Homo sapiens: one gene and its partners. The protein of the gene in region 1 purifies or fractionates together with the protein of each later gene. This does not show direct contact. Each region holds a gene or a part of one and is shown in the gene's direction. Other genes may lie near its edges.

Region 1 (2,201 bases):
AGTTTCACGTCATGCCTAATTTTTATTAGGACTTTACCCAGAAATTTTCCTTTCCTTTCACAGCTCGTAAAACTTCTCTATTAAGAACACTGAATCTATCCTTCCTTTACAAGTTAAAGTGTTCCAAACTTTAAACTTGAATGTTTTCTAAAATAGAATGACTGTAGTGGCATGTAGCTGTATCTCAGAGTCTAAAATACTGCCTGGCAGATAGAAAGCTCTGAGTAAATAATTGGTGAATGAATAATTATAATTAGTTTTAGTTTTTTAATTCATAATTTAGGGTGAAATAAGATTTTAATTATAAAGCAAGATTATGAGGTTTGTGGAAAAAAAGATATACTAAAAATACTCCTTTTCATTTATTTATTTTATTGGAATTAAATTTTTTAGCTGCAAAATGATTACTGTAGAACTTTACCAGTATTCTTTTGATTTCTTAAAATAGAAACCTTAAGTAGGTTTAATTATGCCCTCTGGTGACTAGAATAAGAAAATGCAAAAGATACATCTTTGTAAGAACTTTCAAACTACTTTTGACTCCTAATAGTGACTTTAGTTTTCACAAATAGTTCTGAGGAAGGTATTATTATTATTTTCTTTTTCTGGTTATGCTAAAATAGGATTTTCATCAGAGACTCTACAAGTCACAGAATATGACAGAGGAAAATGTTTAGACAATGAGATAAATAAAAATAAAAGTTCCATCTTGTATATTAATTGCATTTTTTCCCAAACTCGAGTTATTTCCCTAAAAAGCTTACAAATTTAATTGGTATACATCTAATTAGTAAAATATGAGAATATTCTAAATATCTAGTAACATGTTAATTTTTATTTCTCATAGCAAGATGATGATCATTGATTCTAGAGATGTGAATAAAATACTTTGAGACTAAAGTTAGTGAATTGCAAGCTGATAGATTTTGATAATCTGCAGTGGAATTTGTCTTTTTATCTCTTAATTTTAAAGACACATTAAAAAATCAGCTGATTACTATTGTTTTGTAACCTTTAAAGTTTAAAAAATATGAGCCAATTAATGATACTGCCAAGTAATATGGAAATTAGACTTAATTATGCAGATATAACTTTCTCTCTTCAGAAAGATAGATGTCACAGTGAATTTAAAACCAGATTATTTCTCTTAAGTCAGCTTTAGGTCTTTAGTAGAAATGTGCAATTTGTTTCAAACTACATTGCCAAGCATTTTCTCATTCCTTTTTTTTTTTCCAGGCAAGAACTGCCTCCCTTTGACAGATGGCTAAATTTCATGGACTCTCTTTTAAAATTATGTTTAACTTTACCCCTTCTCCTAATTTTAGCCTAAATCCATTTAACCTTCTATCTGCAAGACTTGCTCTCTCCCCTAATCCTTTTTCCCTTTTCTTCCCAAAAGGGTATTCTTTACCCCTTGGCACTCTTTTTACCTTCTCTCTCATTCCTCGTGAATGACTCCTAAATGTTTCTTCCTCATTCTTTCTGCCCTGGTAGCATGTCTGTCTTTGAGGATTCCATGTAGATAAAAAATACCTCCAAGGATTCCCAGACCACAGTTTGGGTAACACTGGTTAATTAACATTTTAATTTAACATAAAGCTTCCAAAATTTTCCCATGCCAAATTTCTATCTTCTACCATTCCTATTTTCTCATTTGTCCTCATGCAGGGACTATCCTCACATGTATTATTTTTAATGCAGCAAAAGAAGAAGAATGATAAATCACCAACAAACAGGTTTGTGAGTGTTCCCAATCTAAGTGCTCTGGAATCTGGTGGAGTGGGCAATGGACATCCTAACCGCCTGGATCCCATTCCTAATTCTCCAGTCCACGATATTGAGTTCAACAGCAGCAAACCACTTCCACAGCCAGTGCCACCTAAAGGGCCCAAGACATTTTTGAGGTGAGACCCGTCTCACCAATGTTTTTTTCTTTTCTTTTTTAACTTGAGAAATTTACCTTCTTACATTGCAGAAATCACTACTTTAAGAACAACCTAAGAAAAATTACTATGAAATATTTTCTTCAAAGTATATTTATCCCCTCTCTAGAGAACTTCCTTTTGACTGTGTTAAAAAGATTTTTTCTAATTTGTGGTCATCAGTCAATTTTCTAAGTACTTGAAGAGGTGTTAATGTAATTTATATCATTAGAATTTTAATATTATGCACAATTACTTTATTTTTAGTATTGTCACCAA
Region 2 (3,500 bases), on another chromosome or scaffold:
GTTTTGGTATTTATAATGCAGATGTAGCATTTGTCAGATCAGTATGGTGCAATGGTGACAGTGCCAGGCTGAGAGTCAGACGTGCTGGTATCTTGGCCCGTTTATTGTTGACTAGCTGTGAGGCATGAGGCTCAGATAGTTTACCTTTTCTAGACCTAAGTTTTTCCATCTATGAAATGAGAAGATATTTCTTTATCTTTAATGTTCCCTCCAGCTCTATCATTGTATGATTCAGTATTTCCTCTTCAGAGGGCTTCAGTTACAATAAATATGTTTACTCTGATCACAACCGTACTAAATGCTTGTTAAAGCAAATTTGTCAGGGATTGCTATAGACAACATTTTGTTAATATCTTCAGCAAGTTTGTATTTAAAATAACTGCCCATTTATTTTATAATGTGCAGACAGCTGCTTGTGAATATGTATTTGAATTGGTGATGTTTTATTATATTTTTCAAGCATTGTTTGGAATACTCACATATAAAGAATTATTCAGTTAAACAGAATATGCAGATGAAAATGGGTGATACATAGGGCCCTTCATCAGCATTCAGTTCTCTTTTAGGATAGCTTTGTCTAATAGAATTTTCTGGGTTGATGAAAATGTTCTGTGTCTGCTCCATCCAGAATGGTGGCCACTGGCTGCATGGGGCTAGTGAGCACCTGATATGTGGCTTATGTGACTGAGAAACTGAATTTTAAATTTTATTTAATTTTAATTAACTTAAATTTGAATAGCCACATATAGCTAGAGGCTGCCATATTGGACACTATTGCTGTAGAATTTCCCATCATAAATATTTTCCTCTAGCTATTGATTTATTTCTGCTTTTCTTTACAGCCATGCTTCTTGAACGAGTAGTGGGTGTGTGTGTCTGTGTGTATTGGTGTGCAGTTTCATTTCATTTTCTGATCTCCCATTCATCCTTTATTTTAAAGCGTTCATTCGAATTCATATTTGTATATGGTTTTTTAAAAAGTACTGTCAATTTAACCCAGAGAAAGGCTCTCTAAAAGAAACTGATATTTATTTGAGATTGAGAATTGCAATGGGAATATGGTGGGCATATTCAGGGAAGTAAAGGAAGACAAGAGTTTTTAAAGGGGAAATGAGGAGGATTATTTAAGTTGTTTTGAGATAACTATCCTTGGCTACAAGGATCAATAACAAGGGTGGCATCAGTCTAAGGTTGGATAGGCAGATGTTGGGCAAATGTCCTCGCAGAATTATTTTTTGTGTAAGATTGTGGTGTCCTTTGTGCAAGGTTCTGGTTTTTGAAGTCTCTTGAACAGTTCTTGTTATCAGTCATACATGCCTGAGAACCCTTCCTTCCTGGCTTTTTAAGGCTCCACTTATCAGTCACTTGTGTCTGATAAAGTGACTCTGATAAAGTCACTTGCGCTCTGACACAAATGTCTGATTTTTTTTTTTTTCCTTTGAGATGGAGTTTCGCTCTTGTCACCCAGGCTGGAGTGCAATGGTGCAATCTCAGCTCACTGCAACCTCTGCCTCCTGGGTTCAAGCTATTCTCCTGCCTCAGCCTCCTGAGTAGCTGGGATTACAGCCGTGCACCATCATGGCTGGCTAGTTTTTAAAATATGTATTATTAGTATAGACTGAGTTTCACTATGTTGGCCAGGCTGATCTCGAACTCCTGACCTGAGGTGATCTGCCGACCTTGGCCTTGCAAAGTGCGGGTATTATAGGAGTGAGCCACCGCGCCCGGCCAAATGACTCCATTTTGATTCTGACAGCTTTCACAGTACATACCCCTAAAGGCAGTCATTTTCTGCCTGTAATGTCCTTTGCTCAGTTCCTATTACATATGTAATCATTTAAAAATTTTACTTCCTCAGAGAGGCCTTTCCTGGTTATCTGCTGTTTAAATTGGGTACTTATACCCACTTCCTCATTCCCCAAGATTCCCAGATGTGAGTTAATATATGCGTTAAAATGTGAACTTGACAGATGGTTTTTCACAAGGGTACTAACAAATGCTTTAAGGAATGTAAAAAGTCTCTGTACTTGATTACGAGGGGCGGCATTGCTGGTGTGTTCTCTGCTGAAAATAGTTTAAGCATTCAGAAGCCAAACCCTTCTACTGAAATACTTTTCTAACTACCATGGTGGGCTAATGAAATGAGTATAGTGCCAATCTATGGGAAAATAATACATATTTGTTATTTTTAAATTCTTATCTATAGTATTGAGAAGGACTGTTCAAACTCGTCCTGCTCCACGACTTCCTCCAACTGTGGAAATAATTGAGAAGGAACAAAATTGGGAAGAGAAGACCTTACCTATTGATACAGACATTCAGAATTCAAGTGAAGAGAATCGTCTCTTCACTCAGAGATGGAGAGTCTCTCACATGGGAGAAGATTTGGAGAACAAAACTCAGGCTCCTTTTGTTAACCTCTCACAGCCCCTCTGCAATTCCCATTCCAACACTCAACAGTCAAGAAGCCCCACATTCTCAGAAGAGCTCCCAGTACTGGGAGATGGGCAGCAGCTGAGAACAAATGAGTCATTAATACAAAGAAAGGACATAATGACACGAATTGCTGATTTGACATTGCAGAATTCAGCTATCAAGGCACATATGAATAATATTATTGAGCCCAGAGGAGAGCAAGGGGATGGACTCCGGGAGTTGAACAAACAAGAAAGTGCAAGTGACATGACTTCTGTGAGTACCATTTAAGGATTGATTAGGGACATATAGGAATTTAAATAGGAACTTTAGCTTGGGCAACTTAAGAAACTTCTTTTCAGAAGTGATCCTAGAAAGCTTTGAGGCTAGATGGCTTATGTTTGGCATGTCCTCAATACAATAGGTCCAAGTTATTTATCAGTCTGTTGTACATACAATACAAGACAGCATAAAAGGGAAATTATATAAATGAAAATAGGACAAAGATAAAATGCGTAGGAAAGCTAAGATTAAGTTAGGAATGAAGTTTTAGGTATAAAATATAGAATTAATGTTACTTGAATGTTTGCCACACAGCCACATGTTAATTGAAAATATTTTTATTTTTAAAATGGCTCATAAAAGAGTATTGGCCCTCAACTCATGAGTAGTTAATTTTTGAGGACATAGAATGGATTTTCCTATAGAAATGAGGTGGTTTTTTTGTTTTGTTTTGTGTGTTGTTTGTTTGTTTTGTTTTTTTTGAGACGGAGTCTTGCTCTGTTGCCCAAGCTGGAGTGCAGTGGCATGATCTCGGCTCACTGCAACCTCTGCCTCCCGGGTTCAAGTGATTCTCCTGCCTCAGCCTCCTAAGTAGCTGGGATTACAGGCATGCACCACCACACCTGGCTAATTTTTGTATTTTTAGTAGAGACGGGGTTTCACCATGTTGGTCAGGCTAGTCTTGAATTCCTGACCTCGTGATCTGCCCGCCTCAGCCTCCCAAAGTGCTGGAATTACAGGCATGAGCCACTGCGCCCAGCCTGTTTTGTTTTTTTGAGATGGAGTCTCACTCTGTTGCTCAG
Region 3 (4,127 bases), on another chromosome or scaffold:
CTGGGACTGCAGGCGCGCACTACCATGCCCAGCTAATTTTTGTATTTTTAGTACAGACGGGGTTTCACCATGTTGGCCAGGATCGTCTTGATCTCTTGACCTCGTGATCCGCCCGCCTCCGCCTCCGCCTCCCACAGTGCTGGGATTACCGGGGTGAACCATCACGCCCAGGCACCTAGCAATTCTTTAGCGGTCTTGGTTTACCTCCCCTTTAGAAGGAGCTTAAAAGCAAGCAAGGCACATTGTTGCCTAGGCTTGAGGCTTGCTCTCACCCATAAACAACGCTGTTACTCTGCTCTGGGGACGACACAGGAAACGTTCCCCACCTCCAGGTGGAGGCTGCAAAACGTGTCAAAACCATCCCTGACATAATGTCAAGAGTAGCTTATACTAGTTTCATCTTCCTTCCTTGGCATTCGAACTGCGTGTGGAACAATTAGCATTTAATATTTGGTAATTAGCATGCTTAATGTGATTCTGAGAAGTTCTTTGACATTCTCATAAAAACAGCACATTCCCACCCACCCTTCAAAGAGCAAGACCCAGTTTGTCAAGAAAAATTGCGTGCCAGTCTTTTCTGGTGCTGAATATGTATGTTCTGGGCCTCTTCCTGGACACTGCTGGTAAATTTAGAAACTCGTTTAGAAAAGCACTTCTCTCGTATTCAACAGCCTATAGGCTCATGGCGCAGAATCTAAGGGAAAATGGCTAAATCCAGCTTGTGAATTCGCGGGCTGTGATGATTCTTTCCAAGTAAATAAAAACCCTCGGTTCGCCCCGACGAGCCACATAATCTGTTCAAATCCAACAAGGAACCAGATTTTGGACGCAAAGAAGGATACGTTCTACTCGCCCCGTGCAACAACGTAAACCACTGTAGCCACCCGCTCCCGTGTCTCCAGCCCAAAGGCTGACTCTCCAGTCCGCACGTCGCAGCGCTCTTGCCCTCCACACCAAGCCCGAGTCCCGCAGCCCCTCGAGGCCCTCGGTGCCTCCCAACCCCGAGAAGGAAGCGGGGGCCGGTGGTGCACCGCCCCGGCTGCTTGGGGCGGAGGAAGGACCCGGACCCCTTCCGCCGGCCCAGCCCGCCCCGGAACCCGACCCGGCCGCCCGGCCCCGGCCGGGCCCCACGTGGCCCCTGGAGCGGGCCGCACTACCCTGCTGCCGCCGACGGACGGCGCGCCACAGCCACTCTGCGCCGCTCTGCGAGCCGGTGGCCAATGAGCGCCAGGCGAGGCCGCTTTGCCATTGGCGAGCGCGGGCTCCGCCCCCGCCGGCAGGCCCCGCCCCGCGCCCGGGTTAGGTTGCGGCGCGGGCGGCGGGCGGAGCTGGTCCCGTTGTGCTGCGGCGCCGCGCGGCCTGCAGTCCCGGGCCCGCGCCCCGCGCCGCCCGCCCGCCCGCCATGGAGCCCGGCCCCGACGGCCCCGCCGCCTCCGGCCCCGCCGCCATCCGCGAGGGCTGGTTCCGCGAGACCTGCAGCCTGTGGCCCGGCCAGGCCCTGTCACTGCAGGTGGAGCAGCTGCTCCACCACCGGCGCTCGCGCTACCAGGACATCCTCGTCTTCCGCAGGTACCGCCGCTGCCCGCAGGCGCCTGCCCCCTAGGCTCAGCCCGGGCCGCCTGCTGCCCGCCTCACGGGCCTCTCCACGCCGGGACCCAAGCGGGCTGGACCTCGTCCTGCCCTGGCCCCCTCGCCACCCCTCACACCGCCTCCCTGGGCTGGGGCTGGGACTGCGGGCTGGCCTCTTGGGTGGGGGAGTCGGAGTCTGCGCCCCGCTCCACGTGTCAGCCCTCAGGACACGTCAGAGCCCGAGGAGACCCCGGGTCCCACCCCGGCCTCCACCCGGCGGCCCGCCTGCCGTTCCTCGCCACGTGTCACCATCGCTCCTCATCCCTGGGACCCCTAGGCGGGATGGGGAGACCCTCCTCACCCAGGGCGGCTTGGGGTACGTTTTCCCCACCCCAGAGAACCCAGGTCCCCGACTGTCACTCCGCCCGCAGTAAGACCTATGGCAACGTGCTGGTGTTGGACGGTGTCATCCAGTGCACGGAGAGAGACGAGTTCTCCTACCAGGAGATGATCGCCAACCTGCCTCTCTGCAGCCACCCCAACCCGCGAAAGGTACCCCAGTGTCCCCTGGAACAGTGCCGGACGAGGGGCGGCCCCAGGTGTGCTCCGGGCTCTTCCCAGATGCTGCCTGCATGGTTGTCAGAGAAAGTGCTAGCGAGGCCAGGGGCGTCCCGCGGAGGGGTGGGGGCCGACACTGACGCGGCCTCGGAATCCTAGGGCAGCCCTGGAAGGAACTTCCAGGAAAGGGGACACCGGCACGAAAGCGTTTCCGAGGGTAGAAAAAGATGAGGCCCGTGGGTCCGAGGGGTCAGGGGGTCTGCTTCAGGGGCCTGGGGGCTCCCAGTCCTGCCAGGGCCCCTGCCTTGACTGCCCCCTCCTCCCAGGTGCTGATCATCGGGGGCGGAGATGGAGGTGTCCTGCGGGAGGTGGTGAAGCACCCCTCCGTGGAGTCCGTGGTCCAGTGTGAGATCGACGAGGTGAGTGCCGGCGTAGAGCCAGGTTTGAGTCCTGGTTCTCCCAGCGGCCAGCTGTGCCCTGAAATGGCTGCACACCCCCGAGCAAGGCAGGTAGGGCCTGTTTCTCCATCTGGAAAACACCTGGTCGGGGAGGGTTCAGTAGGAAAACCAGATGGCAGAGGGCCTGGCAGGTGGTGAGGGCACCTGCGTGGCGAGCTCTTACTAAAACTGAGCTGATTTTTTTTTTTTTTTTTTTTTTGAGACAGAGTTTCGCTCTTGTTGCCCAGGCTGGAGTGTGATGGTGCGATCTCGGCTCACTGCAACCTCCACCTCCTGGGCTCAAGTAGTTCTTCTGCCTCAGCCTCCGGAGTAGCTGGGATTACAGACATGCGCTACCATGCCCGGCTAATTTTGTATTTTTAGTAGAGACAGGGTTTCTCCATGTTGGTCAGGCTGGTCTCGGACCTGGCGACCACAGGTGATCCGCCAGCCTCGTCCTCCCAAAGTACTGGGATTACAGGCGTGAGCCACCACGCCCAGCCGACTAAGCTGATTTTTAATCTGAGCCCCAGGCAGGGCCCCAAGACAGCTCAACTATTTGTACGTTACCCCTTACACTCAGTAGCTGCTCACTAAAATCATGCTACGTGCCAGGTGTTGCCCGGGTATGGGGACAGTGGTAGACGACAGATCAGTCCCTGCCCTCTAGGAGCTGATGTCCTAGTTAAAGGAGACATCAGATGGCCAGACGTGGTGGCTCACACCTGTAATCCCAGCACTTTGGGACGCCAAGGCGGGCAGATCACCTGAGGTCAGGAGTTCAAGAGCAGCCTGGCCAACCTGGTGAAACCCCATTTCTACTAAAAATACAAAAATTAGCCGGGCATGGTAGTGCATGTCTGTAAACCCAGCTACTAGGGAGGCTGAGGTGGAAGAATTACTTGAGCCCGGGAGGCGGAAGTTGCAATGAACCGAGATCTCGCCACTGCACTCCAGCCTGGGTGACAGAGGAAGAATCTGTCTCAAAAAAAACAAACAACAAAAATAGAGACATCAAAGGATGGTCTGATGAAGGCAAGACAGGGGCTGGGGGACAGGAGAAGGCAGGGTTCCTGTGAATGCATGGGGGGTGGTCAGGGCAGGCCTCCAGGAGGTGGCGTTTGAGCTGAGACCTCAGTGAAAAGCAGGTGGCCGTGTGCAGGGAGGGGGAGGTTCTCCTGGCCAGAGGTTGGAATTGCATCCTTCTAAAATAGGAAACAGGCCAAGCGCTGGTGGCTCACACCTGTAATCTCAGCACTCTGGGAGGCTGAGGCGGGCAGATCACAAGGTCTCTACTAAAAATAAAAAAAAAAAAAAAAAAATGGCCCAGCTTGGTGGCGTGCGCCTGTAATCCCAACTACTCGGGAGGCTGAGGCAGGAGGGTGCAGTGAGCTGAGATCGTGCCACTGCACTCCAGCCTGGGCAGCAGAGCAAGACTGTCTCGAAAAATAAATAAAATAGGAAGCGACAAGAAAGCCACTCAGATGGGGCGATTTGGTCTGGAAGGAGGGGGTAGGGATGGGAGAGAGGAGCCCAAGCCGCCGGCAGGAGCCAGCTCTCAAG
Region 4 (3,500 bases), on another chromosome or scaffold:
TAGAGCCTTTTCTTGAGTCACAAAAGGCTTTTTGTCACCTTGTACTCTTTGGTTTTCCATTATTGAAACTTCACGAGTTTTATCCTTCCAATCTAGTCTTTATCGAAGACAAACTGAACTTCAAGACAAAAGTGAATTTTCAGATGTGGACAAGCTAGCTTTTAAGGATAATGAGGAGTTTGAATCATCTTTTGAATGTAAGTTCAAATATAAATACCAGTTTTTATATGTTGAAAATCTAGAAAGCTTAGTTTTGGTGAAACGTATCCATTGGTTTAAAAAGAAAAGCAGTTACAAATTGGGTCATTATTATTTTGTGATACAACCACAAGTACAGATGTATCACCTCATTTTTCTACCATGATGATTTTCATGTGTGTGTTTACTTTTTAAAAATTTCAGTATGACTAATAATTTCAGAGTTTGAGCTAAGCTTATAAATGAATTATTAACTTATCAGATTTTAAATAAGTGATTTTTATTTATTTTTTCCTTTGATGGAATACAAGAATGTTTATTTTTATTTTTTTGAGATGGAGTCTCTCTCTGTTGCCCAGGCTGGAGTACAGTGGTCCGATCTTGGCTCACTGCAATCTCCCTCCTCCTCCCAGGTCCAAGTGATTCATCTGCCTCAGCCTCCCGAGTAGCTGGGACCAACCACAGGTGCATGCCATCACACCCAGCTAGTTTTTTTGTATTTTTAGTAGAGATGGGGTTTCACCATATTGGCCAGGCTGGTCTTGAGCTCCTGACCTCAAGTGATCCGCCTGCATCGGCCTCCCAAAATGCTGGGATAACAGGCATGAGCCACTGCGCCCGGCCTAAGGATGTTATTTTTTAAATATACTGATTCAGTTGATTGCCTCAGATTTAGAAAACCTCATTTTTAGTAAAAGAATAGAGATAAAAGAATATTAAGAGTCCAGAAACTGGTGTCCTGGCTATGGCCCTGCCTTAGACTGTCTTACTTTGTAGCCACTTTGTAAGTGTAAAATAAGCATGTAGAGCCTATCATCTCTAAGGTTCTTTCCAGCTTGAGAAATCTTTATATTTGCATATAAGCTATTGGTTAGCCTTGTAAACTTCATCTTCAAATCTGAAAGTGTTAATATTTTGAACAGTTAAATGAGAGGGCTTGGTAAATTTTGTAAATATTTGTTAAAGTCTTTGTGTTAAATCATTGATATTTTAATAGAATTCAAATGATGATCAGCAAGCCAATTGAATTCTTCACTGTCACTGGGTTGATTTTCCTGTTGGGTAACGAATCTCATTTTGTAAACAAAGTTAATTCTTTCAACTACGAGAACACTCTGACAAGCAAATACGTTGCCAAGTGGTTATGTTGGGAACTTCATAGAATCCTGTTAGGAAAGGGCGCACCCAGTTACTTTGGCTTCAGTTCCCGTGCTCCAGTCAGTTGCCCCCACACTGCACTGCCCTTCTTTGTCTTGGTGTTATTATTAAGGACTCATGGGACAATTGTGCCTCATGCAGCTGCAGGGAACATGCCAAGGCAGTTGGAAATGGGCGGGCTTTCTCCTGCCGGGGATATGTCTCATGTGGACGCTGCTGCAGCTGCTGTGCCCCTCTCATATCAGCACCCAAGTAAGTTCTTTTTTTGAACTAACAGTCAGCAGGGTCGCATACTAAATACCAGTCCGTGTGCTCTGTGAATTATTTCATGTATCACTGAAGTCATCTTGTAGGTGTAAATTAGTCAAAATCTTGGGTTGGGGGTTATAGGTGTCATTATATTGTTAATGACATTTCTGAAGTAATTCCCATGTGAACATGTAAAGACAGTGCTGAGAAAGGACACGTTGGAAGGAAAGGCTTCTCATTTAGGCTTCCCAGGCCAGTTGCTTAAAAAGTGTTTTCATTTACTCTTCAGTGCCTGGCATAGTAGTTGGACTTTTCCCCAAGACTCTTCTGCAAAAACTGTTCCTTGGGAACCTTAAAGTTTGGGAAATCACAGTGAAAAATTGAAATAATAATTAACTCCCAGCATATATCTTTAATATGATTGTAACATTTAAATATTATTTATTTTTCTATCTACTTGTTTCCTTTGTGTCTTAAGAAATTAGGACAGAAAAACTTCGTATTTCAATCTTTGGAAAAGCTGTGACACCGAGTTAGCGTAGCACTGGAGGAAAACTGGCCATCAGACTTCTCTTCTCTGGCCCACTTCCTCTTTTTCCTCTTCTCCTCCAGATTACCCACTTCCCTCCCTGCGGGTGGAGGGAGACGGGAAGAGAGCCGTGGGAGCTTTGTGCTTTGTTCCAGGGCTCAGCCAACAGCCAGGTCCTTTTCTTCTTGGACCAAGTGTTTAATCCTCAAATCTGAAAGGAATTTTCTCAAGTAAAGCCACCTCTTAGTCCCTCCCAAACGTTGGAAAAACATCATACCCAAAACCCCTGTTAGCAGTTTCTTGGTTTTAGTCATGGTACCCAGGAACATATAAAATAACTGAAAGAGGCAAGAGATTTTGAGAGGGTTGATGTTGCTGATTCCAGAGTAAATCTGCTTTGGAAAGCATTCAGTGAGACATGATCTAGAGCCTTGTCTCTGCTGGGCACTTTGCTCAGCGCTGAGCATATAGCTCAAGCCCTCGCCTTCCTGGATTTCTAGCAGGGGAGGCAGATGGTCAGCAGGCCATCACCCAGGACCGCAGCAGGGAGGGGCTGCAGCAGCTGAGTAGGGGCCGTGGCCACAAGAGGGAGTGTCTACAGGCACTCATTTGGCACAGACCTGAGCGAGGGAATACAAATAATGTGATAGGATAAGGGAAATCAACTGAGTAACTAGGTGTTCTGCTGCTGAGATGGAACATAGATTATAATATTTGCTTTAAAAATTATTAAGCAGCATGGCGAGTGACATTTTAGTTATTGAGAAATTGTTATATTTGTCATTTCATCTCTTCATCTGGGCACAAAGGGAATTCAAAAAGGTTGAAATTTGGTGTCTCGGAGGTGCCCCGTGGACATGCTTCCTTCCTTTCCCCTTGTGTCCAAGAGATTTCTGTATACCACCCTGCAGCTACAAAATATACACCAGAGTAGAGAAGCAGCTCACTCTTCCTCTTTATTTTGTAATTGGTGCTTAAACAACATTCCTATTTTGAGATTACTATTCCATATAAGAAAGCAATCTTGTTTAGGAGTAACTATTTTTTCTTCTCTAGCAAGGAGGAAGTTGCATTTCTGCCTGTGGAAATGATCAGCTGTCTCCTCTGGTATTTTAATTTCATGAGAAGGATTCAGAAGAGATGGGGGAGAGAGAGAAGAAACTGTGTTGCTTCTCTCCTATTAGTAAAACTCAGTTCCTGCTGATCACTTTAGAACAAGGCACAGCAAAAAGGTTCAAAGTCCTCTGCTGAACCTATGAATTTTTCTACTTATTAGCATTGCTTGGGTTGAAAAAAAAAATGTAGGTTATGGGTCAGAGCCAGAAGAGAAAGGTCAGCATAATTGTCTCTGGGATTGGGGTCTAAT

Evidence for each region.
Region 2: the proteins of FAM184A (region 1) and SPICE1 purify together in Homo sapiens (affinity purification with mass spectrometry, with the first as the bait; one large-scale study listed by BioGRID). This does not show direct contact.
Region 3: the proteins of FAM184A (region 1) and SRM purify together in Homo sapiens (affinity purification with mass spectrometry, with the first as the bait; one large-scale study listed by BioGRID). This does not show direct contact.
Region 4: the proteins of FAM184A (region 1) and OFD1 purify together in Homo sapiens (affinity purification with mass spectrometry, with the first as the bait; one large-scale study listed by BioGRID). This does not show direct contact.

Annotation. Positions count from the first base shown.
Region 1 is NC_000006.12:118,961,464-118,963,664, reverse strand, and holds part of FAM184A (protein FAM184A), read left to right. Parts: intron 1-1,701; coding exon 1,702-1,904; intron 1,905-2,201.
Region 2 is NC_000003.12:113,452,657-113,456,156, reverse strand, and holds part of SPICE1 (spindle and centriole-associated protein 1), read left to right. Parts: intron 1-2,206; coding exon 2,207-2,691; intron 2,692-3,500.
Region 3 is NC_000001.11:11,057,219-11,061,345, reverse strand, and holds the start of SRM (spermidine synthase), read left to right. Parts: upstream 1-1,327; 5' UTR 1,328-1,402; coding exon 1,403-1,569; intron 1,570-2,000; coding exon 2,001-2,121; intron 2,122-2,453; coding exon 2,454-2,546; intron 2,547-4,127. UniProt on the Homo sapiens protein: Catalyzes the production of spermidine from putrescine and decarboxylated S-adenosylmethionine (dcSAM). Has a strong preference for putrescine as substrate, and has very low activity towards 1,3-diaminopropane. Has extremely low activity towards spermidine.
Region 4 is NC_000023.11:13,762,248-13,765,747, forward strand, and holds part of OFD1 (centriole and centriolar satellite protein OFD1), read left to right. Parts: intron 1-96; coding exon 97-197; intron 198-1,468; coding exon of another isoform or gene 1,469-1,470; exon of another isoform or gene 1,471-1,497; coding exon 1,498-1,608; exon of another isoform or gene 1,609-1,612; intron 1,613-3,500. UniProt on the Homo sapiens protein: Component of the centrioles controlling mother and daughter centrioles length. Recruits to the centriole IFT88 and centriole distal appendage-specific proteins including CEP164. Involved in the biogenesis of the cilium, a centriole-associated function.